Linked DNA regions of Homo sapiens: all the other regions are linked to region 3. Evidence: fine-mapped expression QTL. A gene starts in region 3. Each other region holds a variant in brackets. All regions are shown on one strand. Distances are between the middles of the regions.

What was found. PIP is the estimated chance that this variant, and not a neighbour inherited with it, causes the effect.
Region 1: its variant is the best candidate, but not a certain one, in a credible set for the expression of ST14 in lung (TOPMed, PIP 0.75).
Region 2: its variant is the best candidate, but not a certain one, in a credible set for the expression of ST14 in whole blood (GTEx, PIP 0.90).

Annotation. Positions count from the first base shown.
Region 1 is chr11:130,191,780-130,202,017 of GRCh38, reverse strand. ST14 (ST14 transmembrane serine protease matriptase) reads right to left here. Exons shown (of 19, transcript NM_021978.4): 8 at 7,730-7,869; 9 at 7,281-7,378; 10 at 5,570-5,679; 11 at 5,318-5,448; 12 at 4,073-4,177; 13 at 3,600-3,710; 14 at 3,397-3,510; 15 at 2,949-3,071; 16 at 1,881-2,067. Among named protein-coding and RNA genes, the nearest start is that of ST14, 37 kb to the right of the region's middle. RefSeq lists an enhancer at 3,411-3,912. The variant C/T (reference allele first, on the strand shown) is at 6,552.
Region 2 is chr11:130,112,809-130,123,046 of GRCh38, reverse strand. It overlaps APLP2 (amyloid beta precursor like protein 2), which reads right to left. Exons shown (of 17, transcript NM_001142276.2): 4 at 2,229-2,341; 5 at 1,237-1,433; 6 at 534-742. It also overlaps the pseudogene LOC124902850. Among named protein-coding and RNA genes, the nearest start is that of ST14, 42 kb to the left of the region's middle. RefSeq lists an enhancer at 4,078-4,157. The variant G/A (reference allele first, on the strand shown) is at 5,168.
Region 3 is chr11:130,154,616-130,164,853 of GRCh38, reverse strand. It overlaps ST14 (ST14 transmembrane serine protease matriptase), which reads right to left and starts at 5,072. Exons shown (of 19, transcript NM_021978.4): 1 at 4,794-5,072. The coding sequence starts at 4,874. RefSeq lists an enhancer at 3,337-3,836 and silencers at 4,924-4,993, 5,074-5,193.

The DNA.
Region 1 (10,238 bases), 37 kb before region 3:
TGGTCCTAGGGCTGGGCTGGGGAAACATAAGATGAGCCTATTGTACCTGGTAGTGCCAGAAAGCAAGGACATGGCTCAAAAAAGGAAAGAATGGGGCATATCAAAGAGGCACAAAAGCCAACCTCAAAGAGAAGTGGTTGGGCCAGGCATGGTGGCTCACATCTGTAATGCCAGCACTTTGGGAGGCCAAGATGGGAGGATCACTTCAGCCTAGGAGGTGGAGGCCAAGCTTAGCAACTTAGCAAGGCTCTGTCTCTACAAAAATTTTAAACTAGCTGGGCATGGTGGCATGTGCCTGTAGTCCCAGCTACTCAGGAGGCTGAAGCAGGAGGATTGCTCAAGCCCAGGAGTTCAAGACTGTAGCAAGCTATGATTTGCACCACTGAACTTCAGCCTGGGTGACACAGTGAGACAAGGGACAGCCTCAGGCTGGACAAAGCCACGTGTCAAGCACCCAGCGAAGCTGGGGACCATGGAACTGGGTCCACTCCCCACAGGCTCTTGCTGTCCATCTCCATCACCCAAGCCCTGTGCATGGGTCTGAGCACACTCCATCTGTGCCTCAGGCCTCCCTCCTGCTGTGGGCCCATCTCTCCTCCCTGCAAAGGGCAGCTGAGGGCTTGGGTCACCTGCTCCTGGAGCTGCCTACCATGGAAAAGCGTGCAGCCAGCAGAAAGCGCATCCCCTTCTTCCGAGGTTGGATTCTCCTGGAAGGCCCATGCCCCTGTGCCTGCCTCTTCAGGGCAAGCCAGGCCCTAACACTCCTTCCTTCAGCCAACAGCCAGACGCCCAGAGAGGCCAGGAGCTAAGACACAAATAGCGCAGCCCGGCATTGTGCCCCTGTTCCTGGGATGCCCATGTGACCCTTCCAGGCCTCTCATCTGTCTGTGTGTCTGAGGCCATGACATGCTGAGCACCTACTATGTGCCAGGCACAGCGCAAAGTGTCTCAAGTACAGCATTGTATTTAATTCTCACAACTCTAAGGGTGGGAGCTGATACTGTCACTATCATTGGTGAAGAACCCAAGGCCTAGGAAGTTTGAATAACCTGCCCAGGGCCACCGGCAAGCCAGAGCTGGAGCATGAATCCAAAGCTCACGTTGGCCAATCCGAGGAGTTGCACAGTGCAGACTCACCGGAGACCACACCTGTGCTCAAGTCTGGCTCTGCCACTTAACAGCTGTGCCACCCCAAGCAAACGTCCCTACTTCTCTGAACCTTACTTTCTGTAGTGAGGATACAATCAAGCTGCCTAACTTGCTAGGGGGTTTTAGGAGAGGCACAGAGACAGCACTTGGCTGCAAGTGGGCACCGAATACAGTGAGTTTTTATTATTACTGTTATTGAGCCCCGTCCTGGGATATCTGCTCATTTGGTTTGGATGCTTGTCCCCTCCAAATCTCATGTTGAAATGGGATCCCCAGTGTTGGAGGTGGGGCGTGGTAGGAGGTGTTTTGGTCACGGTTCCCTCATGAATGTTTTGGTGCCCTTCCCATGGTGATGGGTGAGTTCTGAGTTCACACGAGGCTGGCTGCTTAAGAGTCTAGGACCTCCTCCTGCTCTCTCTTGCTCCTGTTCTCGCCATGTGATGTGCCTTCTCCCCCTTCACCTTCTGCCATGGATGGAAGCTCCCTGAGGCCCTCACCAGAAGCAGAGGCTGGCACCACGCTTCCTATACAGCCTGCAGAACCATGGGCCAAATAAACTCTTTTCTTTATAAATGACCCAGTCTCAGGTATTTCTTTAGAGCAACTCAAGAATGGACTAACACATGTGGCCACCCCTCCAGTGCCCTGCCTCGGTGCCAACCTATCCTGGCATTACTCCCAGATGCAAAGGGCCAGCAAGGAGGCTCCCTGCTGCCCACCCAGAGACCCACCTGAATCCTCTGTCATCGATGTAGCAGTGTGCGGCAGAGACCAGCCAGTTGGGAGAGATGAGGGAAGCACCGCAGATGTGGCCCTGGCCCAGAGCATGCAGGCTTACCTGCCAGGGCCACTCGCCCTCATCCGCATCCGTGCCCCCAACAACACGAGCCTGTCTCGTGAATGACCGCAGCCCACAGTCTGCAGAGGGAGCAGAGAACCAGAGGACAGCAAGTCAAGGTGGGGACATCAAACCACAAGGGGACATGCAGTGTGTGCCAGGAGACCCTGTGTGGGGAAGCCAGCTTTTGGCGTGCACAGCACTGCTGGCGTGGCCAGGGCGTGAGGGACCCCCAAAACTATCTTTGAGCTTCACAGACTCCCTTCCACCATGCCCCTCCTTCTCCCCGCTCCCAAATTCAAACCCTCATCTTCCCACCTCCCCCTCCCTCACAAATGCAGCGAGGGCCTCCGGAGGCTGGCTGGTCAGCTTCACTTTGATTTGGGTGTCATCTGCCTGACTTGACATCATTTGGGACATCACAGGGGAGGGGGCAGCATGGAGCAGGGAGAAGCGCCTTTGAATGCTGAAGGCCACAGCTCTGAGAGGGACGAATGAACCGCTGATGTGAGGTCACAGAACGCTGGAGCTGTGCTCAAATCTAACCTGTGGCCAGCCAACGCTTCTGAAACACAGAGGCTGCAGATTAAAGTATGGGCAGGCAGGGGTGACACCCTGCCTTGGGCTTGGGTGAGCTGGGCCGCTCTTCTCCAGGCTACTGCTCCACAGCTGTGTCTACACAGCAGGGGCCAGCAACGCACTGCAGCCACGACCCCGCCATGCTACAGAGGCGCTGAGATGCTGGCCGTACGGGCCTTTCTCCAAGACCAGAGCCAGCCCGTGGGGTGGTGCCTTCATGCCAACTGGCAAGGCTATCCTTTCCTCCAGGAGACACACCCTCTCACCCAAGCACAGAGCTGCTAAGTGAGGTGCTGGCGGGATTGCACCTCCAGGTGCACCCTCTGGTGGGCACTTCACACAGTGAACAACCTGCACAACCGTACTCGGATGCCCTGCTCACCGCAGTCCTTCTCATCTGAGCCGTCGCTACAGTCCTCCTTCCCGTCACACTCAGGGTTGCCCTTGCTCAAGCAGAGCCCATTGAGGCAGCGGTAGGTGTGTTTGGTACAAGTGACGACGTTCACTGTTCAAGGAGGAGGACAAGGGAGGGGCTCAATTCCTCTGCAGCATCCGACCAGAAGCCAGAAACCACCAATGGCGCCTCATGGCCCCTGCACATTACCCCCTCACCCAGGCCTGCCCCACCCACGCCCACTGGCCTCCCTGCCCTGCTACAGGTTCTCCACCTTCTGGAAAATTCTCCCCCAACCAGAGCCCTTTCTCATCACACTTAACACACAGGTGGTTTGTGTTCATTAAACTCGGGGCGTCCTGCATGTGCGTGTGCTCAGGGCAGCCTCCTCCAGGGGCGAGGCCCCCAACAGGAAGATGGGTGGGGCGGGCCTCACCCTTGGGGCAGGAGGCCTCGTCGGACCCGTCCCCACAGTCGTCCTTCCCATTGCACTGCTGGCTTTTCGAGAGGCACTTCCCATTGGAACACCTGAAGGTCTGGGCCGGACAACCTGGAGAGGCACCAGGACTCAGCCACCAGGAGCCACCGTCAGTCGCCCCGCCCACCTGCCCGCCCAGGCAGCCCCTCCCCAGCACTCACTGCACCCCTGCTCGTCGCTGTTGTCTCCGCAGTCGTTCACACTGTCGCAGACCCAGAAGAGGGGCTTGCAGAACTTGTTCTTGCACGTGAACTGGTGGCCGGCGTCGCAACCTGGAGTGGGGTAAGGGGAGGTCGGCCGTGAGGCCCTCATCACTCACTGCTTCCCCAGGATGCCCAGGCGATCAGAGCTACCTGGGGACCGCTTTCTGATCTACAGAGAGGCCCAAGGGGCCCTGCTCCACCAGCTACCAAGCTGACCTCAGCACTTCCGAGATACCCCACCACCTGCCCCACAGGCCAAGATCTCCATATGGCAGGGTGGGGAGTGGGGCCAGAGGTCTCTACACAGGGCCGAGAGCAAAAACTCCCACCACCTCCGGCCTTTCTGCCTCGGCAGTCAGCCAGCAGGGCCATGGGACGCGGGCAGGGTGGGGAAGGAGGGTGGGGAGACCGGGGCTCCCAGCCTGACTCACTGCAGTTGAGCTCATCGCTGTGGTCGGTGCAGTCGGCCCAGCCATCACAGCGCAGCTCCTTCCGGATACACCGCCCCGTGCGGCACGTGAACTGCCCCGGGCATGCTGCGGGCACAGGCAGGCCTGAGGCCCCCAGCACCCACCCACCTCCCTCCGCTGGCTCCCGGCTCCCTCCCTCGGGCCAACCTCCCAGCCACAAACACACAGGAGCAGGGCAGGTGCTGTGGCCCAGGGCAGGGGTTACCCAGGCCCACCAAGCTGTGACAAAGGGGTTCCTGCACCCGCAGCTAGTGTGGGAAGAGGGCTGGCCACAGACCCCAACCTGGGCTGGCAGGGTCCCTCCCCACCACTGAGGATCGAAGCCCAGGAAGCCCCAGGTGCCCTGCAGAGAGGCCAGCTGGTCGCAGGCCCTGCCCTGCCCTGCCCTGTGTGCTGGGCTGCCTGGTGCCCCTGAGGGCCAGGCCCCGCCTGTGACGCTCAGCTGGTCCCCGATGCATGTGATGTGTCCTATCCAAATGTAGTGCGGCATCGCGCACTTCCTTCACCCTAAACATTTTCCATATTTCAATGTTTCTGAAATCCGGAGGCATCTGACCACTTTGCAGATGACAAAGCTGTAAGGAGACCATTGTCACCGCCTCGGCACAGGGACACTTCGGTCACAGGTAAGTGTTTAGATCAAAGGCGTTGGTTCATCCAAGTGTACTTTTGGTGGTGAGCCAGGCCCTTGAATTTTACCTTAAAGTTGGATTCCTAAGCATAGTTAAATGTCTTCCCAAGGTTATTCTATGACGCAGGGTTGAAATAAAAACACATTGCATATGTGGAAAAACCACTGCTCATACAGCCAATGGCACTTCCTCATGTGTCTCAGAATTACACTGTGAATCCTAACGGTGCTAACAGGCCACAGAGGCAAGCACAGATGATCAAAGTCACGGTGAAGGTGGGCCTGAGGGACAGATGGCCGGGGAAGCTCAGATGAGGGGCGTCTCCAGCCGCAGGTACCTCATGCTGGGACTGCAACCCAGAAGGACACAGTGTGTGCCAGCGCTCACAGCCAGCCTGCTTTCATTAATGCATCAAAGGTAGCGTGTTTTCCTCCCAAAGCTACGGGAGGGGTGAGATGCTCTTACATTCTCCAGCATTTTAGAATCAGCAAAGCACGATGCTAACGAGATGCAGGGTAGACAGAACATGCGGTGCAGGCCCCCGCCAGCCCTCCTCCCAACAATGTTCACTCACGGTCACTGGAGTCGTAGGAGAGGTATTCAGCTAAGAAGCCGGTGTCGGTGTAGGACTGATCTGAGTGGAAGCGAACTGTGATCTTGTTGCTGTTGCTGGTGACGACGAACTGGGACCTCTCTCCGCAGTATCTGGAGGGGGGGCGGGGCACAAGGTGAGGAGGGACAGCTGGGAGCCGGGGGGCTGGGGGTCTGGTGGGACCCCTCCCCCTGCAGCATGGGCCCGGCAGCCCCCATACCCCCGGGGACTCACTTCTCCCCGTTGATCTCCACGTAGTCCTTGGGGCAGGTGCCCGCAGGCACGCCGGGCTCCAGCAGGTAGAAGAATTTGAAGCGCACCTTCACATGCTGGTTGTTGGGCACCTGAGGGAAGAGAGGCTGCTGGGAATGTGCAGTTCCCCTCCCTCCTCCCTGAACCTGAGGACGTCAAAGGGAGGCAGCGGCATGGACCAGGGAGAGATGGTATGCCTTCCATCACCAAGACAGGTTGCAAAGTTCTCCCAGCGTGTTTGTTTGTTTGTTTGTTTGTTTGTTTGTTTTTTGAGATGGAGTCTTGCTCTGTCGCCCAGGCTGGAGTGCAGTGGCAAGATCTCAGCTCACCGCAACCTCCGCCTCCCGGGTTCACGCCATTCTTCTGCCTCATCCTCCTGAGCAGCTGGGATTACAGTCACAAGCCACAACACCCAGATAATTTTTTTTGTATTTTTAGTAGAGATGGGGTTTCACCATGTTGGTCAGGCTGGTCTCAAACTCCTGACCTCAGGTGATCTGCCCGCCTCGGCCTCCCAAAGTGCTGGGATTACAGGCACGAGCCACCACACCCAGCCTCTTTTCTTTTTTTTTTTTTTTGAGACAAAGTCTCACTCTGTCACCCAGACTGGAGTACAGTGGCAAGATCTCAGCTCACCACAACCTCCGACTCCCGGGTTCAAGCTACTTTCCTGCCTCAGTCTCCCGAGCAGCTGGGATTACAGGTGCCCGCCATCACACCCGGCTAATTTTTGTATTTTTAGTAGAGACAGGGTTTCACAATGTTGCCCAGGCTGGTCTCGAACTCCTGACCTCGTGATCCACCTGCCTTGGCCTCCCAAAGTTCTGGGATTACAGGCGTGAGCCACTGCGCCCGGCCCTCCTGGCATTTTTAAAGAAAGGAAAGGGAGGCAGCTCTGGCTGGGATGGCGTGAGCGGCACGGACAGGCGACTCTCTTGTCTCACACACCTTCTTTGATTTCTTC[C/T]TGACGGCGCCTCTGAGACCCAGGCACTATCACCCTCACTTCACCTAGGGGCAAGCTGAGGCCCAGGGAGCTTCAGCAACTGCCCAGGTCGTTCCATCACCTGACAAGGAGCTAAGATAAGAGTCTGGGTCTGCCTGACACTGCAGGAAGACCTGACCCCACCCTGGGCCCTAAGACACATGGTCTCTTTGGGGTTTGTTTATTTGTTTTTGTTGTTTTTTGAGACAGGGTCTCACTGTTGCCCAGGCTGGAGTGCGATGGCACTGTCATAGTTTACTGTAGCCTTAAACTCCTGGGTTTAAGTGATCCTCCCACCTCGGCCTCCTGAGTAGCTGGGACTACAGGCATGTATCACCTGCCTGGCTAATTTTTGTAGTGTTTTGTAGAGATGAGGTCTCACTATGTTACACAGGCTGGTCTTGAATTCCTGGCCTCAAGTGATCCTCCTGCCTTGGTCTCCCAAAGTGCTGAGATTACAGGTGTGAGTCACGACATCTGGCTGCCTCTTTGGGGTTGATAAAGGATCTCCTCTTCCTTTTCTTCTGTCTTCCTCATTTGCCATCCACCTCTGTCTCACACACACACATACGCACACACACACACACACACACACATGCACACATATGCAAACACATGCACACACATCCACACACATCTGCACAGGGAGACACACACACGTGCACATACATGCTCACACACACACACGTTCACACGCCCCATAGCTCCTACCTCAATGTTCCATGTGCAGTCAATGTTGGGTGGGTAGTGGCCTGGGTAGTAGGGGCTGTTGAATGTCCCCTGGGCTTTACGTAAGCGGCCTCCACAGCCTGAGAGGGAAGGTGGGAGAAAGCAAGAGGATCAGGAACCTGCCCGGCCGAGCAGGCGGACGAGGGCTCTGCAGCCTGAGGCCTGGAGCTGCCTCCTGGACGCGTGGATGCTGCACAGCAGGTGCACAGCCAGGAAGGCCAGGTGCCGGGTGCCGAAGCTTCAGGAGGGCTCCTGACCCAGGCGGTCGGCCAGATGCCTTTGGCTCAAGCTTCAGCCTCTGCTGCTGACCTAGGCCAGCTCGCCAACCACAGGGTCTAGCCTGTGGCCTCCTAAGCTCAGGTCACCCCCACTAAGGCCTTCCCCTTCTCTGTGGCCCGAGGGCAGTCCCGCCCTGCCCTGCCCTTCCTTACTGCTCATCCTAGGCAGCTGGAAGAAGGTGGCCTCAAAGCCGGGATGCCGCCGCTCAGTGTTGGTTATCAGTGTGATGAGCAGGACGTTCTGGGAGGAGTGGAAGGTCAGGTTGTAGGAGGGAGGGTAGGTGCCACACAACCTGTGGGGGCAGAGGGCGGGCATTAGGAAGAGCAGACAGAACCCAAGCTTCTCACACACCCAAACCAGGCTCTCAGGCAGAGGTGCCTGAGGACCCCACCCCTAACTCTGGTCCCATCCACAGAGGCCAAGAATGGAGTCAAAAAGACCTTCATTCAAGTAAGTCCCTCCCCCACACAATCACTGATGGAAGGCGCTAGTGATAAACAGTTCACCTTTGTCACAATCACTGATGGAAGGCGCTAGTGATAAACAGTTCACCTTTGTCACAATCACTGATGGAAGGCGCTAGTGATAAACAGTTCACCTTTGTCACAATCACTGATGGAAGGCGCTAGTGATAAACAGTTCACCTTTGTCACAATCAAAGAGCAACACCCAGCCGGGCGCAGTGGCTCACGCCTATAAACCCAGCACTTTGGGAGGCCAAGGCGGGTGAATCACCTGAGGTCAGGAGTTCGAGACCGGCCTGGCCAACATGGTGAAATCCCATCTCTACTAAAGATACAAAAATTAGCTGGGCATCACGGTGCACGCCTGTAATCCCAGCTACTCCAGAGGCTGAGGCAGGAGAATCACCGGAACCCGGGAGGCGGAGGTTGCAGTGAGCCGAGATCGCACCACCGCACTCCAGCCTGGGCGACACAGCGAGACTGTCAGAAAAAAAAAAAAAGAGCAACACCCTAGACACAATACATGCCCACAACAGAGGATTTATTAAATAAACTGTGGGCTCAATCAGAACAACAGCAGTAGTAACAATCAACATTTATTAAGAACATGCCAAGGTCGGGCCTATAATCCCAGCCTGTTGGGAGGTCAAGGCAGGAGAATTGCTTGAGGCCAGGAGTTTCAGACCAGCCTGGGTAACGCCTCATCTCCATAATCAAAAAAACTAGCTGGGCATGGTGGCGCTTGCCTGCAGTCCCAGCTACTCCGGGGCAAGGCCAGAGAACTGCTTGAGCCTCAGGAGTTCAAGGTTACAGTGAGCTATGATTGCGCCACTGCACTCCAGCCTGGGTGACAAGGAGACTCAAAAAAAAAAACATGCCTGGCATGGTTCTCGGTGCTTTTAAATCTATTAACTCATAATCTTCCTAACAGCTCTATGAAGTAGATACTATTACCCCTATCTCAGAGGTGAGGAAACTGAGACACAGAGATGTTCAGTAACTTGCCCAACATCTCATGGTTAATAAGTGGCAGGCTTAGAATTTAAACTCAGGCATTCAAGCTCCAGAGTCCACACTGCTCACAACCATGTCATCCTGATTGTGTCCCCTCCTTCTAAACAATGCAACCTTATAAAAACCCTGAGAGAGAGGGTGACTGATTTGGAAAGACCATCATAATATACTTCATTTGTTAAAGCAGGTAATGAGACTGAATGCACGGGATAATCCTATTTCTTAACACACACACAGCAAAAAAGGCTGGGAAAATAGACATCAAAAATTTGGCCGGGTGCTGTGGCTCACGCCTGTAATCCCAGTACTTTGGGAGGCCAAGGCAGGCAGATTGCCTGAGGTCAGGAGTTCGAGACCAGCCTGACCAACATGGTAAAACCCCATCTCTACTAAAAATACAAAAAAAATTAGCTGAGTGTTGTGGCGCATGCCTGTAATCCCAGCTGCTCGAGAGGATGAAGCAGGAGAATCGCATGAACCCAGGAGGCGGAGGTTGCGGTGAGCCGAGATCTTGCCACTGCACTCCAGCCTGGGCGACAGAGCGAGATTCCATCTCAAAGAAAAAGAATTAACAGTGGTTATTTCTAGACAGTAAGATGACGAGTGACTTTAGTCTTCCTTTTGCTTGCCGATTTCCTTCTCCCACTGGGAACATGTACTTCTTTGTTGTACAATTAATAAATTAGAGAGATGGAAAAGAAGTCCTGGTTACGAAGCTGTGGCGGCAGATGGTTCTAGGTTGTTCTTGGCCTGAATTTTAGCCCATTATTAATCAGGAAACGTCCGCCGAGCTCATTTCCCTAGACAGCCACGGAAGGCTCTGGCCCAGCGAGTGCAGGAGAGGCGGCTCACCCACCACGCACAGCACCTCTGCGAGGTACGCCCCACCCTGACGTGGGGTATCCCACAGGTGCATTAACCACGCCTTTCCGTTTTCTGTAATGCAGGTGCTTTGACATCTGAGGCCCTGCTGACTGTGGAAGGCTGGCCAATGCTTAGAGATAGGAAAGGACTCACCTGCAAGCAAACCTTCCCTATGCAAACCCACCTATGGGGGCCCAGCCCCACCTCCTCCGAAAGGATCTCACACTCAGGGCCACTATTCTTTGCCCTAACCACCCCAGGCCCAAGTATCAGAGAACTAGGGACAGCTCCTATGCCCCGGAGCCTACTGAAATTATTC
Region 2 (10,238 bases), 42 kb after region 3:
GGAACTACTGCAACCTTTTCGTGTTTTAATTGGCAAGATGAGAAAAAAAAAAAACTGCAGGCCCCAATCTGTTACCAGCAGGTCAATAAATTTCACCCTCCCAACTAAAACATCTGGACAAATAGGGCAGCCTACAGATTAGAAGACAAGCAGGAAAAGAAAAACCAAGAAAACCATTTCTATTCTAGGAGGCCAGAACTTGAGTGGTATCGAAGAGGGGAGCTCCCCTTGGGGAGGGAACATTTTAGGATGAATGTGGAAGAATCCTGCTGAAGGGCGGACTACGTTGTCTCTCTTACTCTCTAGTCCCCGTTCTCTAATTCAATCCTACATCTCTCCCTGGATGTGCCTGCCTGCCCACTTTGTTAAGACGGCACCATCCCATCACTGCACTGGAGAGCTGAACTCACCTTCAGTGCAGAGGTACCACACCTTTCCTTCTGTGACTGACTTACCTGTGACAGACGCAATGCAAAAGTCTAAGTGAATAATTACCACATGGATTTCAAAGCCATGGCTCTACATGGGGTTACCTTTGACATCATGAGTAATTTCCTTGTCTGACATGGTGCCGTCGCTGCCGGGTTCAGTAGGATTCTCCTCATTGTAGTCATCTCCTTTGAAGGTGTCATAGTAGTAATCTCGGTCCTCCACCACTTCCTCCCCTTCTTCCTCATCCTCATCATCCTCATCCACAGCTGCTTCTGTGAAGTCTTCCAGATCTGCTTCAGTAGGAAATTCACTGAAGGCCAAAATAGAAAAAAAGGAAGGTTAATAGCTCCTATGTGCAAAGCACAACAATGGGTCCCTTCTCTATTCTGAAACACAAAAACAGAGGCAGGAAATAAGCTCAACGCACATTTCACCGTGCCACTAAGCCCTGGGGCCCAGCTACATCAGCAAACGGGAAGTATTTGTGAACATTTGAATCTAATCATGATACAACAATAAGACAAATCCAAATTCAGGGATATTATGTTAAACAAATGACACGGACTCTTAAAAAATATCATAGTAACCTGCAGAAAATAACAGCTCAGAATGATGTAAACACAAAAATCACAGGTACTCCTGTGATTGGCAATGGCTAGAATGAAATGCAAGCTTAATCAACTCTAGCAGAACAAAGGAATGCCCAGTTTATCCAGAAGTGAGGGACTAGCAGCCAACAGCCGTCTTTACAGAAGGGCTAACAAAAAGGCAAAACGACTTCACAGTTCAAAGTAGAAGAGTTACCTTTTATAAACATCATAGTCTTCCTCTTCATCTTCCTCTTCCTCTTCCTCTTCATCTTCCTCTTCCTCTTCTTTTGACACAGATCCAATAATCTTTGTCTGAGGGCAGCACACATATTCAGTGCCATGGAACTGGTCTACCCCACATGGGAGCAGCATGCCGTAGCTATATAAGGTCATTCCCTGAGTCAGACATGCCTAAAAGAAACCCACAGGCCACATCAGAACATACTCCAGAGTAAACGTGGTCAAATACACTCCGATCTCTACCCTCCAAAATAAACCCTTATCAAATCACTTAGCAATGCTTTCTCTTATGAACACATACATTTTCTGTCAAAAAAAAATTGTAATAATATTATTGTAAGATTTATAAATTTTAATTTACAATGGGGAAACATGATCTGGTCCAAAAATACTGAAATCCCAAATGTGGAAAAAAGTCAGGAAGAGAGCATTTTTTTCTAATAATGACTAAAGCCAGATAAGGTGGTCAATGTTAATAGATACTCACCACTGGTGCAAGCACTACTTCAGTATTTGACCAAAGGAAGATTACTGACCAAAGAGCAGAGCCAGCCTAATTACAGAAGACAAGAAAGGGTACTTCTTGCCACCAGAAAAGTGAGATGGCATGCAGTCCTGCCTGTGCATATGTCCAGACCTATATTTTCTATCACTGGCGATTTCCATGCCGGCCTTAGGGTTAGGATGGTTTCCTGGGAGCCTCACCAGCAGCATACAGTATTCTCGCTCAGCCACCTCCTTAACATCCTCAACTTCAGGAGCTGACTGTCAACACTGAGCTCTCCTACACAAATACCTACTTCTCTCCCAAATATTTCTAACTTATAAGACAGAAGTAATTGTAAACCTTAAGGAGATAATGGGGGAAACATAACTAACTTAAAAGCATGGTGAGATTTGGAGAAAAGTGCTACTTCCCTCCTAACAGATACAACAGCAGCTGACTTTCCCCCCGAGTTCTCTTACCTCTTTGACTACCGTGTGCCAGTGCTGGTGATTCTCACACACCTCCATCCGCTCTTTGTGGAAAAACTGGCACTTTTCTGGAACTAGCAGGACATCACTTACAAATTCACCCACTGGAAAAGAGAATCTTTGTCAGAGCGGATCTGACCATGATTTCAAGGTGAAAATGCCCCTCACTGAAGTTTATGATGATAGTCTACACAGCCAGGAGCAGTCTCATGTATACGAGCAGATGCACATCTCGTACCTTCAAAGGCTGACTGGATGGTACAGTTCTAGCCAAGCAGCCACAAGAACTCACCAATCTGTCAGAGCCATGATGCCAGGGACCTTTTAAAAGCCCCCTGACTGCAGTCCCACTGCAGGGCTACAGCAACACGTGACGGGGAATATAATAGGATCACCTCCATGCCCGCCTCAGACACACACAGCTACTCTCCCCACATGGCTCTGCCTTCCTTATTCCTGCCCACACCTCTGTAATCAAATGCCCAAGAAACTAAAACCAGGTGTTCTACTCAAGTACAGATGAATCTTTAGACAAAACATGATGTAATAATTGAATCCAGTAAGAATAATCAATGATTAATTACAAAGGGGCAAAGGTGTCTTTACGGTGGGAAGCCTTGGCAAACTACCTCAGCCAGATAACCAATTTAACACCACTGATAACGAGCAAACTGGTGTGTGTGATGTCCTAAAAATAATATATCACCTACACAGTATTTCTGCCAAAATATATTATCATTTGAATCTAATCATGCTAAAACACTAAGACAAATCCAAACTCAGGGACATTACATTAAACAAATGGCATGGACTCTTAAAAAATATCATTGTCATGAAAGTTTTTGTTTCTAAAGAAAGACTAGGGAACTATCCTAGATGAAATGTAGTATGTGATCCTTTTAAAAAGGAAGCTATAAAAAACACTAGTTGGACACTTAGGAAAATTTCCAAACATGACAACTGTATTGTCATTATATATAGAAGAATGTCCCTGGCTCTTAGGAGAAACCAGCTGAAATACTTAGAAATGAACTGTCGTGATATCCCAACTTACTTTCAAATGGTTTAGCAACACAAAAATATACATATAAGATGCAGAGAGAGAAAAACATCAGGTAAAACTGGAGAATCTAGGTAAAGGGTACAGAGATATTCACTATTACATTTTCTAAAACTTGTCCCAAAAAGTCGGGAGAAAGATACACATAGCTGTTTATTTACAGGGAAAAGATGGTATGTGATTTGTTTCCAAATAATCAGGGTTGTGAGGGAGTGGGCCTATAGAAGGTGGAAGAGTGGCTCATGAACTGATGGTGGTTACAAAGCTGGGCAACCAGTACGTGAGGGTGAACGGTATCATCGTCTCTTGTTTGGCCATGTTTGTAATTTGCCACAATAAAAAGTTAGAAATATACAACACATCACTGGATGATCACCCCAAGACTCTGATCAGTAGTGTAAGGTAAGGCTCAGTAATCTACACTGGGCATACGTCTGCCATGTGCTCCACACAGTGTAGAGGGAGAGGAAGAGAGGGCGAGAAGGGTGCTTAGCCCAGGAAGAGATGCAGGAAGCAGTGGCAGGAAGATGCAGCTGGCAGACTAACCTCTGAGGTTAAGGGGGGAAAACCCTGAAAATATCATGAGAAAGTAATGTGGTCTAAGAAAGGGCTTAGGGCCCAGCTAGTGGGAAGTCTACACAGACCCACCCAGCCTCGCCATCATGGATGAGTCTCTCAGGATCCTCTGCCTTGGGCCTCGGGCGCAAGCACTGAAGTCAGTCTTTCTACCGCCCCAGTGGTAAGAGAAAGGGAGTTGCTGATGTGTAAGTAGGGGAAGATGGGCTCCTGACATGACAAGCTGTAGCAGTGTAACAGTCCCCCCACATGAAAACTGCATTACAAATGGCAGTCAGGTTTCTCAGCACTGCTAGCACAGGGACTTTGGGATCACACAGCTCAATGTGACACTGAAGCAGGATTGCGAAAGTGAGCCTGACATGCTGCTTACCCTTGAGGACCCCAAAGGCTCTAGGGGAGGCAGTACCTGCAAACAGGCTTTAGCAATCAACGAGACTTAAAAGCATTGCTTAAAAATAGCAAAAATACCAACAGTAAGCTAGAATCTGCCTCTACGAGAATGAACAACCCTGATACTCAATCTAAGTAGAAATTACTTCAATTCTGACATCCAACCACCAACTCACATGGTTTAATGTGATTATTCTGAATTAACTAGGCTGTTTTTGTTCATTTATGACAAAAAGCAACAAAAGTGGATGCTAAAGGAAAAGTATATGCAGGGTTGAATGCTAGGGTTCAATCTCAGCACTGTCATTTACTAGCAGAGTAACCTTAGCCAAGTTACTTAACCTTTCTGTCCCTCGGTTTCTTTATCTTGTGGGGACTAAATGACATAATCTATACAACAAGAAAAGCTTAGAACAGAAACTATTGTTCCACATGTGGGTTTGTTGTTTAAAATAAAAACAGAAACTGACACCTGGTAGGCACTATTGATGTTAATGTTAGTGAAGTCTTGAGGAACTAGTTTTATACGAACTATTCAACCATACTCATAAAGCAATGTATATTTAAGCAACAGTTAATGCACTTTAATTTGTAAAACCTCACTTTTAAATGTGCAACTGCAACATCAAAAAAATTTAAAGCAGCAATTTCACTACTAATCTATATTCTATAGAAACACAACAACTATTTTTTTTTTTTTTTTTGAGATGGAGTCTCGCTCTGCTGCCCAGGCTGGAGTGCAGTGGCGCAATCTCAGCTCACTACAAACTCTGCCTCCCGGGTTCAAGTGATTCTCCTGCCTCAGCCTCCCAAGTAGCTGGGACTACAGGCACGTGCCACCACGCCCGTCTAATTTTTTTGTATTTTTAGTAGAGAGACGGGTTTTCACCATGTTAGCCAG[G/A]ATGGTCTCGATCTACTGACCTTGTGATCCACCCCGGCCTCGGCCTCCCCAAGTGTTGGGATTACAGGCGTGAGCCACTGCGCCTGGTCAGAAATACAACCTTTAACTCAATCTATACAACACCTTGGATAAACTAAAAAATGATGTAAAGTAAAAGCAAGCTGTAAAAGGTCAGGTACAGTATGATGCCATTAATGTAAATTTTAAAACACAAAAACATTGTTTATAGATGCATGTAAATGTTGCAAAAGAACTGAGACCAGCCTGGCCAGCATGGTGACACCCCACCTCTACTAAAAATACAAAAATTAGCCAGGCATGGTGGCATGCACCTGTAATTCCAGCTACTCAGGAGGCTGAGGTTGCAGTGAGCCGAGATCATGCCACTGCACTCCAGCCTGGGCAAGAGACTCCGTCTCAGAAAAAAAAAAAGATGGAGATGAAGCAAACATGACAGAACACTGAAGAACTGAAATCAGGAGGGTGAGCATATGAGCAACCATCACATTATGTCTCATCTCTTCAGGATGCTTGGTGTAATATTTCAGAATTAAAGTTTAAAATCAAAACCTTTTCGGAAATGCCAAAAATTTAATAAAATAATTAATTCCATGCTAAACCATAAAATTAAATGCCACTAATCTTCAGCTATTCCATGACTGAATCAATCTGTTCGATCTCTAAAAATCAAAAAAGAACACCACTGAATTTGAAAACAAACTAAATTCTAAAATTTAACTTTTTTTTTTAAGATGGAGTCTCACACCATCACCCAGGCTGGAGTACAGTGGCACAATCTTGGCTCACTGCATCCTCTGCCTCCCAGGTTCAAGCAATTCTTCTGCTTCAGCCTCCTGAGTAACTGACATTACAGGCGTTCGCCACCACACCCAGCTAATTTTTACTATTTTTAGTAGAGACGGGGTTTCACCGTGTTGGTCAGGCTGGTCTTGAACTCCTGATCTCAAATGATCCTCCCATCCCAGCCTCCCAAAGTGCTGTGATTACAGGCATAAGCCACCAGGCCTGGCCTAAAAATATATATATATATCTTTTAACAGTACTCTTTGATTCAACAATTCCAGTTCTAAAAAGATACCCTAAGGATGTCTGGACGCAGGGGCTCATGCCTGTAATCCCAGCACTTTATGAGGCTGAGGCAGGTGGATCACTTGAGGTTAGGAGTTCAAGACCAGCCTGGCCAACATGGGGAAACCCCATCTCTACTAGAAATAGTAAAAATGAGCCAGGCGTGGTGGCGAATGCCTGTAATCTCAGCTGCAGGGTGGAAAGGGGGACACGCAGGACCAAGGCCGCAGTCAGCCAAGATCGCGCCACTGCACTCCAGCCTGGGTGACGGCGACCCTGTCTTAAAAAGAAAAAGAAAAAAAGAAAAAGATACACACCCTAAGGAAATAACTAGGCAAGTGAATTAAAATATTCATTAGTGTTATTAATATCAAAAAACTAGAACAAACCTAAATGTCCATCGAGAGGGAATTAATTAAATGATGATACATATATACAACAGAATAGTATGGGGTTACAAGAAATATGGCTTATGTGTATATTTAACATGGACATTTTTCCATGGTGGTTTAATAATTTTTAAAATCATTGAACAAACAAACAAAAGGAAACCCACTGCGTATCTCTAACCCCTTCTTCAGGCTAGTTACTTAAGGCCAACTTTATCTTTTTTTTTTCTCCCAACCTTATCTTTTATTCAAAGATGTATGTATCCCTAAAAGTAGCACATGATAATAAAAGCTCAATAAATGCCAAATAAAAATAAACAGAACTTTAAACAGAGGAGCATACGTTGTATCATCACAGTTAGGGAAAAAACATTTAAAAGTATATACATTTCCATGTGTATCCAAAGAAAAAAATGTTCATCTATACCCCAAAATGTTAATCACAGTTAACTTAGTACAGAAACTGAAAATAATTGTTTTTGTCCCCTTCCCCCAATGCAAACTTCTTTTATTGAAAAATAAACCCCTTTTTAAAAAGTAGACTGAAAGAGGAAACACATTTCAATCCCAGCATCCGCTCTATCATTTCATTGCTACTCTCTGCCTTTGCTACAATTTTTCATCAGAAGCTCCTAGGGAAAAAAATTTACCTAGGCAGATCAGTATTACTCTGTTTTACAGAACATTGAAAATGGTTTGCTCTCACTTTAGTAATTTATATTCAAGCTGGTAACATCCTCAATTTTATCAGCGGAGTATAATATAATTGCCACAATTTCCTAAGTCACTGGACAAACATAAAGCTCTACTGTTTTTGCTGATCAATGAATATGGCAATATAGCAAAACCTAACCTATACAATATTCATTTAAGCTGCAGTTAGGATTTATCGCCAATTTCTAATCATCCCTGTGATTCAGCTTTTCTTTCCTACTACTTCTCTCCAGCAGTGCTATGGCAGCCATCCAGGTTTTAGAGCTTTTTCAGAGTTGCTGAAATTCCTTTCAGAATAAATAACAAAGGTTGTTTACCTACTTGAGGAAGCCTCCAACACCAACACCCATGCATATAAGTAAATCTACTACATACCCTGACATGACTATTACACACTATATGCCTGTATCAAAATATCTCGTGTACTCCATAAATACAGACACCTACTATATACCCACAAAAATTAAAAATTAAAAAAATAATAATAAATATACTACAAAAGTACACTCCAGGTGCAAACAGGAAAACCATGTAATTTAGGGAGCTGGTAAAAGCTGTACCCAGGTGGGAGAAAACAGCCTTATGTAATGAGGTCTGGTGGTCACCCCAGGTATGTTTCAGGGAAAACAGGGTTCAGAGAAGTGAAGGATCCACGCTACCTCTCGAGAGTGGAACATTCACCTTGCACAGGGGTCCACACCAGGAACAGGGTGAACTGTCAGTGGCTGTCATGAACTCAAAGGCTAGAAGACTTGCAAAAGGACACCTGCAATGGAAAAGTGAGCTATGCCAACAGACCAAGGTACAAATGCAGAAGACAGCACCTCAAAGCTGCCGAGACCAGTTTTGTTTTCAAAGTAGATATTAAATCAGAACTTTAGTAGTTTTCATATCGCAATAACACTACCTGTCCAAATCTCTGTCCAAAAATAACCAAAAACAAAAAACAAATCACCTAAGGCCCAGATCTGGGTTTCAAAATAGCATTCCCCACTAAAAGAAACCATGGTGTCTCAGAGAAAACAGACTCCAGGAGTGGAGTAGGGAAAATACAGAATGGACTTGGAGAATCTTTTGTATCAGAAAGTAAAGTTCTCAAAGAATGATAGGGACATGTTATAAGGACACAGGAACCAGCATAACGGGGCCCCCACTGGCCAAATGCAGACAATGTGTACATAGTAAGACAAATGAATGTAGATACCATCTTAGCCAGGTGATGAAACAAACTGGTATCGCACTACTCCTGCTATGATGCAGTGAGAACCCTTCTGTGATACTCCCCTCAAAAATGAATAAATCAAAAGGATCACAGAAAAACACAAATTGCAAGGCATTCTATAAAGGAACTGAGCTTTGTGCAGTGGCAGTATCGTAGCCAGTGAGGTTTATCGGAGGCGTGATCACTGCTAATTGAAAACTTTTCTATAAAGGAACTGGTCTGTAGTTAAAAAAAAAAAAATCAATGTCACAAAGGACAAGGAAATATGCAACATGTAATCTTAGATTAGATCCTGGATGTTATTAGAACAACAGGTGAAACCTGAGTAGGGTCTGTAGATGAGATATTGGATCAACTAGATATTGTCTACAAAATCTTGATTTTTGATGATTATACCACGGTTACGTAGGAGAATTTCCTTGCTTTTTAAAAATACACACTGTAGTATTAAGGCATAAGGATACCATGTTTGCCTTATTGCCAAATGATTCAAAAAACAACAAACCTCGAGTATGTGTGTGAGGGGTACTGGGAAGGGAGAATAAGATTTTTTACCACATTGATCAAATGTTAACAGTTGGAAAATCTGAAATCTGGGTGAAGGGTACACAGAGGAACTCTGTGCCATTTTTGTAACCATTCTGTAAATTTGAAATTATTTTTAAACTATTATTTTTTAATTTAAAAAAGCAATAGCAACTCTAAAAGACTATCATCAAAAGGCTTTCTAAGGAGTCTATGGGGGGAAAAGGTGGTGGCCATTATTAACTGAATGATGTCAGTTCTGCCTGGGTGCTCGAAGTGGAGGTGACAGCGGAAGGGGCAGGGAGACATCAAAATCTAACTGATAAGGGAGAACTGCAATATGTCTTTCCTACTCCCTCCCTTAAACTCCAGTCATGTCACCCCTTATTCGTTTAGGCTCAGGCAACTGTGCTTATGTAAAAATATCAATGGATAGCTCTACCGACTGGTTACTAAGTTGTCCAAATGGATGCTGGGGTAAACATGAATAACCGTCTGAAGTAACACCAAAGATTGTATAATGCTTTATTCAGTGACCACAATGCAAAGAAGGTACCAAATGGATTATGGTTAAACTGTCTTTTATGCATTTCATTAACGACAATACTATTGCTTGGTTCTGTAACATGCTAACAAATTTAAACTCTATCATTTGGGAAATAAAGCAATAAAATAAAATTTCTGTTGTGTACCAACTATAGTAGTATTTTTGTGTTGTAATTATCGTAAACAGTATATCCGATATTCTAGGCACTACCATGGTGCTGAGGTTGACAAAAAAGACTAAAACAGGGTCGCTGCTGGCAAGGTGTTCACAGCATAGTTGGAGAAAGGTCTATGAACAATCATGGTACAGTGTGATAAGTGCGATGGCAACAGCAAGGAGTATTACAGAAACCTGGATGAATGGATAGAAAATAAGACCAGGAAAGGCTCCCTTTAAAGGAGGCAACTCCTGAGGTAAGCCTTGCAGGAAGAACTTCCCAAGCAAAGTCAGCAGAGGAAAGCCATTCCAAATGCTGAGAGCTGGATGGTGCACGACCACCCTGGGGTGGTCGATGCTGATAAAACCTAAAGCATGACATCACAGAGAACAGGGGAGAGTTGAGCAAGGGCCAGATCATGGAGTTTT
Region 3 (10,238 bases):
AGGCAGGAGAATCGCTTGAATCCAGGAGGCGGAGGTTGTGGTGAGCTGAGATCACACCATTGCACTCCAGCTGGGCAAAAAGAGCGAAACTCCATCTCAAAATAATAATAATAATAATAATAATAATAATAATAAGGCTGGGTGTGGGGGCTCACACTTGTAGTCCCAGCACTTTTGGAGGCTGAGGTGGGCAGATCACTTGAGCCCAGGAGTTCAAGACCAGCTTGGGCAACATAGCAAGACCCTGCCTCTACAAAAAATACAAAAATTAGTCAGGCGTGCTGGTGCCCACCTGTAGTCCCAGCTACTGAGAAAGCTGAGGCAGGAGGATTGCTTGAGCCGGGAGGTCAAAGTGGCAGTGAGCCATGATTGCACCATTGCACTCCAGCCTGGGTGACAGAGGGAGACCCTGTCTAAAAAAAAAAAAAAACAGTAATAACAACACTTGTCTCTGAGAAGGGTAATACTTGGTCTCAAAGACTAGTAAGACCACATCTTACTTCCCTTCAGCCATGCCTGACCCAGGACTAGGTACACAGTTAGTTCAATGAAGCTTGGCAGGAAAAAAGACAAGCAGCCAGCCATGCTCAATAAATGCTAACGATTATTAGTGTTCATCATTATTAGTATTCTAGACACTCCAGTAATCATTGCACAATATCAGAAGCAACATCATCTTCAGGACCTGGGCTCCCAGGGGACTCTGTCACGTTTCCCTTCCTCTTCCAAAGACAACTTCTCTTTTAAAAGAGACATGAGCCACCAGCCTTGGCAGAACCACAGACCAGAGAAGGAGCAGACATCAGGGAACTTGAGGGCCACAGTGTTCCGAGGGACAGAAGCCACTGGCCACAGCAGTAGGCAGTCTGGTAGTCTGGTTCCCAGGGAGCAGAGTGAGGGTCAGGTAGGGGGAGGGAGCTGTGACTCGTTCTCCTTCCGCAGCCGGTGACAACGTGGCAACAGGCCAGCAAGTCGGCTCGAGCAGGTCCACCCTCTGACCATTTCCACTGCTAGCAGGCGAAGGCAGCCATCAAACTAGGGGCATCTTCTCCTCTTCCTCAGTTTTCTCAACTCCTAAACGAGGAATTTCCAGGTGTTCTCAGGACCAAGGCAGAGGGAAGGCTCCAGAAAGCCCCTGGAGAAGGCAGATTTCCGGTCCACTCCAGCAGCTGAAGCCCCACCTACAGGACAATCCTAGCTTCCTGCTGCTTTCTGCCTTCCCAACCCTCTTCCTCACCCACTGCACACACCTGCCCAGCACATGCTCTAGAGAACAAAAAAGGCAGTTCTCTAAAGTTTTATGTGGGCACAGTGGCTCACGCCTGTAATCCCAACTACTTAGAAGTCTGAGACAAGGAGGATCGATCACCTGGGCCCAAGAGTTTGAGTCCAGCCTGGGCAACATAGCAAGACCCCCATGTCTAAAAAACAAAACAAAATAAAAGTTTAATTTTCTATGGTGGGAGGGGCAGGGGATGAGAAGGAGAAAGGGATATGCAGCTGGCACACATTTTCTTTTCATAGAAAGATATTTCTCCTAGAAGCTGGGTAAAGCAGGGGAATGAAAATCAGAAGGTCTTAGGAAGAGGTCTCTGTTGCTGGCGAGCAGTTCCTTGAATCCTGGGGGCACTTCCCTGTGTTTGGCAGGGCAGGATGGCTCCTCTGTGAGGTCAGGGCCCCACTGACAGCCTGGGTTCTCAGCCTCTCGACAGGCGACCTACTGATACTATACGATCTTCTTGCTTGTCTCAAGTCCCTTTCAACTCAAAAACTCAAGCTGCATCATTTGAACACCACACTGCAACTTACAAAGGGCTTTCATGTAAAGTACCCCTCTTAATCCTTTCAACAAACCTGGAACATATATGTCATCACCATTTTATAGCCACAGAAACCAAGGCTTAGAGATATTGAGTAACATCTCTGAGATCACGTGGCTAGACAAGGCGGCCCCGGGTCTTGGCTGCATGTTACCTCCTGCCACCACATCACAGATGCCTGCAGCCCTAATTTGCTGACCTGGCCCTTCCAGCCTGGGTTAGAGAGATGCCATGTGCTCACCCAGTGCATATCGAGAAGCTAGTACTCATGAGTCAGAATTCAGTTCCCTGTACCCCACACTACCTTGGGTGGTCCCAAGGACAGGGGCTGTGAGTCTAGGGTCTTCCTCACTGCTATTTCCCAGCACCTGGCACAGGCTCAGTCAGTGGGTTACCTAGCAGATATTGTTATGTGAATGAATGCCTGAATGGTTGACAAATTAACAAGCAGGTGACCCTCTGAATAGCCAGAGGTGTACACCCTGGCCCCTAGACATCTGATTTTGGCCACACAACATCCGATTTTTCCAAACTTGGTCTCTGGATGCCTAAGGGATGCTGAGTCTTACCTAGGGCAATTGTGATCGGAAAAGGAACCAGTGGATGTCAAGGCAGCTTCATATTCACCATCAAATACTCAACAGGAATCAAGACCCTCAGGGAGGCAGGCTCCCTGGCTCTCATTAATGGCCATAAGAAGTGGCATCTGTTTCCCTGCTTGCTTGCAGGCAGGGCTCACACCATCCCCAGATGCAGTAACGTGCATCAGGACTCTGAAGGCCACGCAGAACACTTGATGGGAACAGCAGGGGTGGGGCAGGGGCCACACCACCAGCCTTGGGAAGGGGACAGCCAGATACAAATACCACCAAACAAGGGTGCACGGATGGATGCAACTGGGGACAAGGAACCCAGAAACAACAGCACCCTGTGGGCCAGGCTCTGCTGACCCAGATAATAAACCCAGGGGCAGCAGCCACACCTCCCGGCCGGGGATGGACATCCTAGCTGCAAACACACACTACAGGGTGATCCCAGGGACTGGGATTTCTGGTGAGGCCAGGGATGGGAGGAATCTGCAAGACATGGAAATGAGCTTTGGCCAATTTCCTCTGGACACTCCGCCTCACAGCTAACTTTGGCATTCGTCTCTTAGTTTCGCTCTCAAGACTGGATGTTCTTTAAAGGAAACAACCACATCTTACTGGTCTCTGAGAGCCTTCCCTTCACCCATGGGACTAGGTACTGAGTTAGTTCAATAAAGCTCGGCAGGAGAAAAGACAAAGAGCAAGCCAAGAGAATGAAAATGGCAGAGGGGGAAGGAACAGCCCAAGGGCGCAGAGAGCAAATGAGCTTCGCAGAGGAGGAGGAAATGAGCAGGGATGGGGGAAACTAAAGCCAGGGCTTGCAGGTGACAAGACAAGTCCGCTGAATGTGGGATCCTGGGGGTGAGTGGAAGGTGAGCCCCAGCCTGGCTGCTTGTCAGGTGGTGAGATGGCTCAGAGAGGAGGCTGGACCACACGACCAGGAAGACCCTGCTTTCCCCGTGTGGGCAGGAGAGTCCTAGAAAGGGAAGTCAGGGAGAACAAACTTGGGGTGGGGGCACCGGACTGCCCTGAAATAACAAATTCCAAACAGCAGGTTCTCTGCTGAAGAGGCAGGGAGTCTAGAACCCCAAGTAGGCAATTAGCAAGGACACAAACATAGCAATTACAGCAAGGAAGAGAAGGTGAATCTGCCTCACAGCAGGGCACAGGCACAGCCAGGGGAAGGGCCCAAGCCTTCAGGTCCACTGGAAGCTTTCCTCCTTGCTGAGGGTGAAAAGTGGAGAAAATAGCAGAGCCCAGCCCCAGGTCCTGTCTGTGGTGCAGGCAGCCTCCAAAGCCCCAGCGTCTGATTTTCTGCAAGCTCCCTAGGTCGGGATGCTGCTTGGACAAAAGGAATTGATCTGAGACAGCACCAAAATCAGGCCTGACTTAGGGAGCAACGGCGGAGACTATGGAGCCCAGGGGCACCCGGAAGGAGGGGAGAAAGTGAGGGTTGGCAGGGCAGGGAGGCCATCATTTGCAGAGGAGCAAAACTCTCTGCCACACAGCCCCTGCCTCTCAGCGCCGCCCTGACCTGGTATGCCCTGGCCTTCCAGGAAACCTGGGGGTCTGCCTTGGACAGAGAGGGTAGAGACCTGGCTGCTGGTCCCGCCCGGGCACTACCACCTAGGTGGGTCCGTCAATGAAGTGACTAGCGACCCATCCCCAACTCCATACAGGAACATGTAATCTTTTTGAGATCTTTCAATAGGTCTTTCATTGTTCTTTCTGCCAAAGAAGAGCTTCCTGTTTCGGTACTTCGCAAAAGGCTCAAGACATGTGTGTTCCCACATCCCTTCCCATACAGCCGCCTTCCCAAAGGGCTCCATCCCCTCTCGAGAAGCCCAGGCAAGCCCAACTCTGGAGTTCTTAGCTCCAGCCCGTATGGCAGCCAAAGCCCTGGCCTCCCAGTTGTCCTCTGCGAGGTCCCAAAGCGCCTTTTGACGGGGAAGGAGAGAGACGAAAGAAACTTTCTGCAGAGGCCAAGGATGGCTGAGACTCCAAACCCTCCTGAAATTTCACTTCCTCCCAAATAACCCCACTCCAAGCCCCTGGTTTCTTCCAGATGTTCACTAACAGCGCGAGAGTCATGGAGGGGCCGAGACGGAGCCCCTTTTTTCAACTCAGGGAAAGAAAGGACCGAGGGCGCAGGAAGGCCCAGGGGCTTCCCGCCTCCCCCTGGCGGGGCGCAGCCGGTCCGGTACCAAAGGTCCGGCCAGCCCCGCCCGCCCGCGGCCCGGCACCCGCTGAACAGGAAATTCCACCTGTGCGCCCAGAGCTCGGCCACCGACGGACACGCCAGGGGAGCCGGCCGAGCCCAGCGCCGCGCTGCAGGGTCGGGCGGGCAGGAGCTTCCCAGCGCCCCGGGTCCCCGGCCCGCGCTCACCTCGTGCCGGGAGTTGTACTTGAGTCCCGCGCCGAAGTCCTTCGGGCCCCCTCCGCCCTTGCGGGCCCGATCGCTCCCCATGGTCCCCGAGGCCGCTCGCGGGTCTCACAGGCGTCGTCCCTGCCGGCGGCCGGCTCCCATGGCCCGCAGGGCGCGGGGCGCGGGGCGCAGGCGGCGGGATTCCGGGCAGGCCCAGCGCGCCCGACCGGCGGCGGTGCCCTCGCCCTGGCGCGCTCTCTCTCCCTCTTCCTCTTTCTCCGGCTGCAGCTCCGCTCTCACACTCCGGCCCGGCCCACGCAGGTAGTTTCAGGGTGTGGCCTCGGCCCGCCCAGCCCGCCGCGCTCGCCTGCGCACCTGCCCGGCTCACCTGCCCGCCCCCGCCGGCCCTGGGGGAGGCTCCTCCCCTCGGCTCTGGGCCTGAAGGTGAGGGGGCCTCACTCGGGTGGTGGTCGCTAAGGCCCTCACCATCACCACGACGGCGTTCACCACCCCTCCGGCCCTCCAGGGGCCCTGCCCCGGGAGGGCAGCCCTTTATCCACCTCCTTGATGCCAACCATCTTTTCCCTCCTCCCTCATGCGCCTCCGGTCTCTCCCCTTCACCTTGCTCACTTTGCTACAGGACTAAATCGCATTTATGAACCCCCCAAAACCAAACAGAAACCAGAACCGCCCCTGGCCCAGGCTCCCCGTCGGCTACGCAGCCTCCTGTTCTCCAGGCGGGAGGCGCTTGCTGGCCTGCGCCCGGCTACCCTGGGGAGGCCCAGTGACATGAGCTGTGCCACCAGATGCCCTCTGAGCCATCCCAACGCCCCTCGCCCACTTGCAGCATCTGATGCTTCCTCAAATGCCCCCTTTCCCTGGATTCCGGTCCTCCTTTCTAGTCCTAAATGTCATGATTCCCAAAGTTCTCCCTTCAGTTTCATCCCTTTCTTCTCTAAGCTTTTTCTCTTGGCAGCACGTCTCATCTTACGACTTCAGACAGGAAGACCTCCCTCCCAGCACAGACACCACCAAGGAGTGCCAGTTCTGCCTTAGCGGTCGCCTGGGGACGTCTCCATTTATGTTCTACTGTATTCTGTAGCCAATGAACATTACCAAGCACACACTAGGCGCTAAGCACTGTCCTGGGTACAGGGAAACAGGAGTGAACAAAATAAAAATCCCTGCTTTGAGATCAACAAGCCCCATCTTCCTTCCCTGACTTGCCCATTTTCCACTGTTTTCTCTAATTCTAATGGCAGCATTCTCCCAGGCTCAAATCCTGGAATCATCTTTGATTCTCCACCCTGCTTACATCTCATATCCAATTAGTTCCAAATCTGATCAAGACTCTGCTGACAAGCATAGCCCTTCCATTCCTGCGCATTAGAAGACCGCTATTCGAGTCCTCAGAGCCCTTTGCCTGGTTAAGAAAGATCTCCTGCCTCTGGGCTGCCACCCTCTGATCTCTCCTACACAAAGCAGTCAGGTAAATCTGAAACCACAGCTCCTTTATGACTTTCCGTGTCTCCCGGATCAAATCCAACCTCCTTAGCCCAGCTTCACACTCTGCCCTGTCCTCCCTTAACACCGTGCCTCCAAGCATTCCTGTTTGGAGCCCCTCTCTCCAGCCAGGCGTTCTGATCTTGGCAGCTTTCATAAAGCTTTTCATCCCCTGGAAGCTCTTCTCCTTCATACTCCTTCCGCATATTGGGTCGAAGACACCGATGGGGTTTTTTAGTGTTGTTCATTGAATGTTTTTAGCTCTCTGCCTTCTGGGCACAGGCCAGGGTGTTACTCTCTCTTCTCTGAAGTTAGGTATGGCAGTATGGCTAGCGGTAACCAAGAAAATGTCCAATGAGAGGACACACCACTTGTACATAGCAGCATAAGGAGGCACTGCACAATGCCCTGCTCTCTTCTGAGAGGTTTAACTCTGTGACCTGTGACCCTAAGTGGCTACAATGACACACACTGGATATGTAGCATGAATGAGGAGTCAGTCAGCTTTTGGGATGTTAAGCCACCGAGAGCTGAGGGTTGTTTGTTATTGCTGCAAACCTCACGCTTCCTGACTGATATGCTACCTCCTCCCCAGGAGTTTCCTTCCCTCTCAACCAGAACTAGCTCTGTTTGTACCTCTCTCATGGAGCTCACCACCATTTCGTTGCATTTTCTGTCTGTGTCTTAACTGCCTTTGCACCCTCAAAGCCTAGCACAATGACTAACACAATATATTGGGTCAATTTAATTGAAAGAAGAATGAATCTGCTGCCTTCCATCACATAAAGCATTCCAAAGCTAAACAGAAAATATTTCTAAAAGGCTGGCACGTTGGCTTCCAGCACTTTGGGAGGCTGAGGTGGGTGGATCACCTGAGGTCAGGAGTTTGAAATCAGCCTAGCCAACATATAGTGAAACACCATCTCTACTAAAAATACAAAAATTAGCTGGACATGGTGGTGCATGCCTGTGGTCCCAGCTACTTGGGAAGCTGAGGCAGGAGAATTGCTTGAACCTGGGAAGTGGAGGTTGCAGTGAGCCGGGATCATGCCACTACACTCCAGCCTGGAGCGAGACTCCATCTCTCAAAAAAAAAAAAAAAAAAAGAAAAGAAAAAAAAGAAAAAGAAAATATATAAAAATAAATTTTCCTTTGGATTACCAATGGCACAGCATTCTTCAACTAGTGTGAGTGATGGAAAGTAAGCCAAATTCAATGTGACGTAAATGAGATGGTACTCCTGACACACAGACCTTCTGTGCTGCTGCAAACGCAGTGACTCACGTTGTCTCCCCACTTCCTAGGGCCTCATCTTTTATCTCGTAGAGCTGGGCGCTCAGCGTGATTTGGATGCCGTATGAATGCAATGCATTGACTGCTAGTGCAGATGAAGAGAAAGCGATGCAGGACAAGACCCTTCCCCTAGGATGGCTGCATGGGGATACCTTGCTGCATGCACCCTATGTGCACTCCTGGGTTGGAGGAGGCAGTGTAACCATATGTTATTCCATGAATCCCATTTGGTTTAATCCTCAAAAAATTATGAAATGTCAGTGCTTTTGTTCCTAAATGGTAAGTGAAGGAACCCAAGAGCAGACAGCCTCCAGAACAGGACCAGATTCTCACACTCACAAGGAACAAATCCAACTCAAGCCCAGATTTTGGCTTGAGGTCCGTGTCATTTCTCTGCTATAGAAAGAGTGACTCATGACCAAATGACCCAACCTTCACCACCCACTGTGCCTTCTCCACCACCCCCTCACTGGCCCTTCCCCGGCCCCAGCACTGCAAAGCTGTCATCGCTCCTCTCCAGGGAGCCATCCTCTTCCTGGTTCCAGGACTGCCTGCTGGGAAAGTTACATCTGTGTCCCTGGGACCCCCTCAAGGGCATGTCCAACAAGCCCCTATGTCCTTGTGGCCGGGACCACTTAGAAGGTGTGCAAATGTGGACCTGCCCACAGGCTAAAGGACACTGGCTGAAGCTGGTGACAATGTGGGAGACAGTAGGGCCATGTGAGGTAGGCCCAGCCCAAGTGTGAAACAGCCAGTGCTCTGGTACCATCCAAGGCGGGGAGACCAGAGCAGCTTGTGCCAGGCCTGCAGGCGACTCATGCTCCTTCAATAAAGAAGAAAAGTGCAAACAGCAAAGAGGTGTGGTAGAGGTTGAGAATGAACAGAATAAAGTCAAATGAACCGGTTATGGAGCTGGCATCCATAAATGTACCTAAACCTTCTGAAACAACAAGGTTTATATGAATTCGACACCTAGAACCACTTCTGCTTTTGTCTTGGCACAGCCCTCATGCTTCCCTGTCAAACATGCTTCATGGGGAAAATGCACTTTCTAAACGCCAGGTGTTTAGTATCCTTGAGGTAATGCTGCTTTTTCCTGCACGGTCCTTCCCACCCCATCCCCGATGACTTGGCCCCTTCCCCTTAGTGAGATCCAAATTCAGCTAAAGTTTCAAAGTGAATATGATTAACTTTCCCCAGAATTTAATAACTAATCTCTTCCGTCACTTAGGACTTATGGTATAGTGTATTTTGATCTTCCTGATACACATAAGAGCACTGAAAATGCTGTTTGGAGACAGTGAGCGAGGACAGTCTGTGGAGCTGATCAGTGTCCGTCAAGTAAGCTGTCTGCTACTGGGTCTCTTCACCGAGTTTAGAAACAAAAGCATACCATAATTTCTTTTTTTTATTTTATTTTCTTTTCTTTCTTTTTTTTTTTTTTTTTGAGACAGAGTTTTGCTCTTGTCACCCAGGCTAGAGTGTAATGGCACAATCTCGGATCTCGGCTCACTGCAACCTCCACCCAGGTTCAAGTGATTCTCCTGCCTCAGCCTTCCAAGTAGCTGGGATCACAGGTGCGTGCCACCACTCCCAGATAATTTTTGTATTTTTAGTAGAGATGGGGTTTCTCCATGTTGGCCAGGCTGGTCTTGAACTCCTGACCTCAGGTGATCCACCCGCCTTGGCCTCCCAAAGTGCTGGGATTACAGGTATGACCCACCACGCCCGGCCAGCATATCATAATTTCATGAGGATTAAACCAAATGGGTCTGATGTGATAGTTGATGGCTACGCTTCCTCCTGGCTCCTGCACTTCCATGAGCTGGTGCGGCACAGCGGTCCTAGGGGGAAGGGCTTGGCCTCTGCGTGGCTTCCTCTTCATCTGAATTTGCAGCTGATGCATTGCATATGGATAGCATTCAAATGCCAGCACTGAGCACTTCTGTGGGCAAGATGCTCATTCAGCTCTGAGATGAAAGACGACGCTCTAGCAGGCCAGGCTCTGTGGCAGGCACCTGTGGTTCCAGCTGCTCGGGAGGCTGAGGCAGGAAGATCTCTGAGCCCTGGAGTTCGAGGCCTCAGTGAGCTGTGATCACACCTGTGAATAGCCACTGTATTCCAGCCTGGGCAACATAAGTGAGACCCCATCTCTAAACAAAAGATGATGTTCTAGGAATATAGGGGAGAAGATGACCCCTCCTTTTGCAGCAGCAGAGCGGGTTTGTGTGCCACAAACACCCATTTGTTTATGCTACTCTGGATCCAGCTATCTTAGCAAAGGGCTTCCTCATCCATTTAGTCAACCAGTTCTAGAAGACATCACTGACCTCTCCTTTCCTTATCCCACCCACCCACAAACAACAAACACACAAACAAATCACCAATCAGTTGGTTCTACCTTTAAAACATGTTTGGAACCTGTCTAATTCTCCTTTTCCCTCCTGCTGTGTCCCTATTCCACGCCACCATCATCTCTCCTGTGGGCTACACACAGCCCTGCAAGCTCTCCTTCCTCTCTGCTCCACTCTAGGCCTTGTGGTTACAGAGAATGGTTTCCTCTCCAGGCGCAAAACTCCTGAAGGCATGGACCAGTGTCTGTTAGCATCCCCAGCATGCACTCAACCAGTCTTTGTTAAATTATTCAAAGACCACATGAATAAGGAAAAA